Regions from separate parts of the Homo sapiens genome. Here region 2 is linked to region 1. Evidence: fine-mapped expression QTL. Tissue or cell type: whole blood. Region 1 holds a variant in brackets; the other region holds the start of a gene. All regions are shown on one strand. Distances are between the middles of the regions.

Region 1 (2,768 bases):
AGCCCAGGAGTTTGAGACCAGCTTGGGCAGTATACTGAGACCTAATCTCTACAAAAAATAAAAATAAAATAAAAATTAGCCAAGCATGGTGGTGCATCCCTGTAGTCCCAGCTACTTGGGAGTACTTAGGCTGAAGTGGGAAGACTGCTTGAGCCCAGGGATGGGGAGGTTGCAGTGGGCTGACATCGTGCTACTGCACTCCAGACTGGGCAACAGAGTGAGACCCTATCTATCTATCTATCTATCTCAAAAAAAAAAAAAAAAAAAAAAGCTTGAAAGATCTTCTAAGAAATTGAAATTCTAGCAAAAAAGAAAAGTAATATTGAAACCTGTTGCACTATAATGAAAGTTAGACCTAAATTATGGTATACATGTGCTTTCTCACATCTTTACTGAATTATTTTAAAATAATTTAAATATGTATTTATTAATAAAGATAAAGGTAATTTACCTTAAATACATATATATGCACATATATTCATATATATACACATATATTCATATATATACATATATTCATATATATATATACACATACATATATTCATACATATATATTCATATATATATATATTTTTTTTTAAACTGAGTCTCTCTCTGTCGCCTGGGCTGAAGTGCAGTGGTGCGATCTCGGCTCACTGCAACCTCCGCCTCCCAGGTTCAAGCGATTCTCCTGCCTCAGCATCCCGAGTAGCTGGGACTACAGGCATGCGCCACTAGGCCCAGTTAATTTTTTGTATTTTTAGTAGAGACAGGGTTTCACCATGTTGGTTGGCCAGGATGGTCTCGACATCTTGACCTTGTGATCTGCCTGCCTCGGCCTCCCAAAGTGCTGGGATTATAGGCGTGAGCCACCACGCCCGGCCTATCTTAAAATTTTAAGAGCCAGCTATGTGCTAATGTGATGACGAAGCAAAATTTTAAGGGATATATTTTTGTTGTTGTGGTTTTTTTTCCCAAGAAGGAAGCTGCATTAATATCATGGTTTATTCTCTCCCTAAAGACCAACTGCAACCAGATGAAGTAAACGTAACCTCAAGATTTTATTGTCCTCAGAATAAAACAAAAGCTGAAACTTAGAACTGGATCAACTGGCCATTTCTCTTCTTATCTCCTCCTAGTGCAAAGTGCCTGGATCCCTTAAGAGCCAGCATTCTCTTAGATCTGCAGTGGGGTCAACACTAAAGCCTCAGCACAGTCTTCTTTGTAGTTTTAGCCTTTTTCCAGAAAACTGGTTTAGTCTGTCCACCACGGCCACTTGGCTTCCTGTCATAACACCACTTTCCCTGGGCATCCAGAGAATCCTTGCCCTTTTGTACTGTGTCATTTGTAGGGTTTGTACAGAAAGTCAGGCGGGTTTTAAGAACACTCACCATGTTTGTGGGAGTGCTATCAGCAAGGACAGCAGGGTGTGTGTGTGTGTGTGGTATGTGTGTGTGTGTGTAACTTTCATTTACACTCCTGTGCCATGCTCA[T/C]TACTGTTTTCAGGAAGTAGCTCAAAAAATAAATGTCATTACTTCATTATTTAACCTAAGGGACATGATCTGGCTTTCAGAATTACACCCTTATTGGATCATAGAATGATAAATTGTTTGAAGCACCAGTATTTTTAGTTTAATAAATTGAGGAAATGGAAGTAGTCTCTTTTCTATTGTTGGTGTTTGTGCTGCAAAGTCAACAAGAGGCTGTCAAGTTTGTAAATAATTACTGCATGGAGCTTTTTGTGGGAGCAAACTTTTCCACGAGAAGTGAAGTTTAAGCAGAGATTCAGAACTACAAGGCCATGCTGCATGCAGAGGTAAACCCATAGAGGATTTTTGTTGTTACCTACTCACTCACCAGTAATTACATGCATTACAGTAGAAAGTACTCAATAAACATTTGAATTAATAACATAAATTTAACTTTAAATGCATGTGCAACACAGGATAGTTGTAAAGCTCCATTGTAATTGTACATGAAAGCATTCTGGATAAAAACAAAGCACTATCGCATGAAAGCTTCTTATAATTATTTTTAAAATCCAACCATCCTTAGTTTTCATATTACACTAGATTGCTGGCATTCATGGCTTTTAACATTCAGAATACCAATTCCCTGGGTTTCCAGGAAAAATGTAAAGGTAGGCAATTAAGAAGCTGATGGTGGGGGCTCCCCTACTATAATAGTAGTGGTAGTGGAGAAAACCTCTGCATGGCCAAGGATGGGGCAGGTAGGAGCCATGAATACCTTTGGGCAGTAATGGCTGAACCACATCAGAGGCTAAATAGTCCAGCCTCGGCACCTCCCTCCAAAAACAAGGCAAACCACAGCACAGTCTATAAATGGGACTAGACAGACATTCAGATAGAAGATGCAACTTTAAAAAAAATAGGCAACATTCTTAAGATCATTATCTTTCCTTATATCCATATGGAATTTGTCTGTTTTATAAAAACTCTGGCAGGAAAGACAGGAAAAGAGCATCTTACCTCGATGTTCACATGCTCCTAAGAGATTGATGATGTTTGGATGGTGTCCAAGTTTACAAAGAACTTCCAGTTCTCCTGCAAAGTCCCTGTGATCATCTTTGGAGGCATATTCTGGGAAGAAAGTCAAGGGTTGTGATTCTTCTTTGTTACACCTTTTCAGAATCAGCTGTCCCGTCCTGCCCCCTAAGAACCTTCAGCTACCCTCAGTCACCATCAACTGTATACAACCAAAGAGATTACTCTAAAGTAGAGTTTCTCGGCCTTGGCACTATTGACACTGGGCTGATAATTCCTTTG
Region 2 (2,768 bases), 100 kb after region 1:
TTTCGTTATTAAAATTAGAATGTTTTCAAACCGAAGGGGAGAGACTGATGGCAATGATAAATGTATTTGTGATATGTAGTTCAGGTTTGGATACTGCCTTCTACCTATGTCACATAGGCTGAGTGAGCTACAGAGGCACACCACTATCTGGAGTATCTAAGCAATAAACACGCTGAACCCAACACACTGGCCAACCACTCCTTCACTCTACAACAGGCTTCATATACTCTCCTGTGTTAAAGATTTTGGTAACTGCCTAAATTTTTGTTTCATTGGGCCAGTAAACCCTTTATGAATTACTACATGGCAAACATTTTTTAAAATAAAACAAAAATTCTAATAGCCCCAATCTCCCTGACCCTAACTACAAGAAAAAAAAAAAAGCCTACAATTTCATTGCTTTGCTTAAAATAGGATGTAGATATAAAATCTTTTTACAGAAAAGCATCTTTGTTCCCTTTTAACAGTGACAATCTATACACTGCCTTAATTGGGCCCCTGTATTTCTCAGCATGAATTTCATTTTTTACTGAAGATTTTCTTTAAAGCAGGTAAAACCGGTTTGTTCTTTAAAAAAAAAATCAATAAGAAAAACACTCCAGAATGAGGAGCAGGAAAATAATGCATGATAGTAAGGGGATCTCTTCAAATAAGATGATTTAATCGGTCCTCAAAGAGTTTCTAACACAGGGGCCAATCACCCAGAAGACAAACTAGCAAAATCAGTTCATGCCACAGAGCCTTTGCATTTCAATCCTTCCACACATATTGACTGGAGACTCACAGAGAAATGGTGCCTTTGCTACAGCCACCCCTTGTTCATCAGCACTGATGAGATTTGGGGAGAGCACCCAGAAATCACTAACTCTGTTTTTTAAAATACTAAATTAAAAAAAATAAAGCCAAACCTTACCAGAAAGGAGCAAGCTGACTCCACAGAGAACTAAGCTGGCTAAAGAGTCCATGCTTCCCCAAATCTCTCCATCCAGTTTCCACAAATGTGCATGAGGTCCCAAGGATCCTTTCAAAAACCCAGCGGTTTGTGACTTTCCATTAGCATCGTCCTACTACGTCTTGTTTACAAGTTAGAGGCAAGAAGGAACAGCACAGAAGCAGGCTGTAACAGTCTCATTTCTGTCTGAGCACAGGGAGTTTTAAGTTCCTTTTTCCTGTTTCCTTTGTAGATTAGGATGGGAAAGGCTGTATCTTAAAGGCATTTGGTATCAGCAGGGCTGGGGGCACTCAAGCCCTATCCATCTCGCAATTCATCAAAACACTTATCTGTTGCTGTTGCTTCTGCTGCTGCTTTTGCTGCTGCTGTAGGGGCAGAGGAATTTTTGTTGGAAGTGTGGGTCCCGGTCAGCATTTTCAGAAACAATAGGGGTATCCTCTCATAGGCGGGAAACTGAGAATAACAAGCCCTCCACCTATGTATGGTATGCGATGATGACCAATCCTTCTCAGACTTCTAACAGCTCTCCCGGGGCTACTGGGATCTCTGACAGAAGGAGCTTTTGGGTGTGGGAAGCCGTTTTGGCTTTTGTTTTCTCATTTTAACCCACATGGTTTGAATTGGGAGAAGAAGGTTTCCGTGATGAGAAAATACAACCTGAAAAGCAATTAATTTCAGTGAGCACCGGTGAGGTCAATGCTCAATGTAGCCCCAAGAGACCAGAGTCCAAAATTGTTAGCCTGTTTTCTTTCACACAGATGGCCTGTTGGTTGGCCATTAGCCCAAAGATACCCATGTTGCCGGCTATAGCTTTAATTTTCATTAACAATTCATCTAAAGGTGATCAAATTTCTTGAAGAAGTTGGCATAGAAGGATTTTGGTAATGAGAAAGATTTGGTAGTCATTGAGCAATGGTGTTTCAGAAGCAAATTATATATAACATTTAAAAACTAATCTGTGTAAAAACACAAACATACAGGATTAGATTGGGATAAAAATGGTGCTCATGAGAGCAAAGAGAGTTCATGGACCAAAATGAAAATAGCCATGGAATGTACAATATCTAGAATGAGGTCAGAGACCCTACACTTATCCAGATAATTACTCCACAATATGAATTATGACATTAGATTAGAGAGTATACACTTTGCTCATCATCGACCTTCATGCCTGAGGAAATCATTATACTCCTCCTTTTCCTACCCACCAGAGGAAAAGGCAGATGCAGCTAGTCTTGACTAATTTCTGTCCCAGGTTTTATCACATCGATGATGATCTTAAGAACCAATTAATGTTTCCAGTTTGCAGGTGTGAAAAAGCCCAGGTTCTGTCTGCAAACAGAACTGGGTTCAAATACTGGCTCAGCCACATGTGTAGCTGAGAAAAGTTACTTAGTCTTTTTGAGCCTCAGTTTCAACAGCTGTGAAATGGCAAAAATATCTCCTTCCCAGGTGTTTTGAGAGGAATAAATGAGGTTTAAAAATATAAAACCATTTGGTACTATGCCTAGTTCTTTGAAGGTTCTCATTAAATGTTAATAAGTTTATTTTCTTTCATCTTTCCATTCAGTCTCAATTTAAATTCCAAGAGCTTCTACTAAAAAGCTATTTTCTATTCCTATGAGATGACTTTAAATTTGTCATCACGAAAAAAAAAAACAAAAACAGTGGGCCTGGCACAGTGGCTCACGCCTATAATCCCAGCACTTTGGGAGTGGATCACCTGAGGTCAGGAGTTTGAGACCAGCCTGGCCAACATGGCAAAACCCCATCTCTACTAAAAATACAAAATTTAGCTGTGCTTGCTGGCGTGCAC

The links. PIP is the estimated chance that this variant, and not a neighbour inherited with it, causes the effect.
Region 2: TEK starts here. The variant in region 1 is fine-mapped to the expression of TEK in whole blood (INTERVAL, PIP above 0.99).

Annotation. Positions count from the first base shown.
Region 1 is chr9:27,208,935-27,211,702 of GRCh38, reverse strand. TEK (TEK receptor tyrosine kinase) reads right to left here. Exons shown (of 23, transcript NM_000459.5): 16 at 2,472-2,582. It also overlaps the pseudogene RPL36AP34. Among named protein-coding and RNA genes, the nearest start is that of EQTN, 87 kb to the left of the region's middle. The variant T/C (reference allele first, on the strand shown) is at 1,476.
Region 2 is chr9:27,107,788-27,110,555 of GRCh38, reverse strand. TEK (TEK receptor tyrosine kinase) reads right to left here and starts at 1,331. Exons shown (of 23, transcript NM_000459.5): 1 at 914-1,331. The coding sequence starts at 965.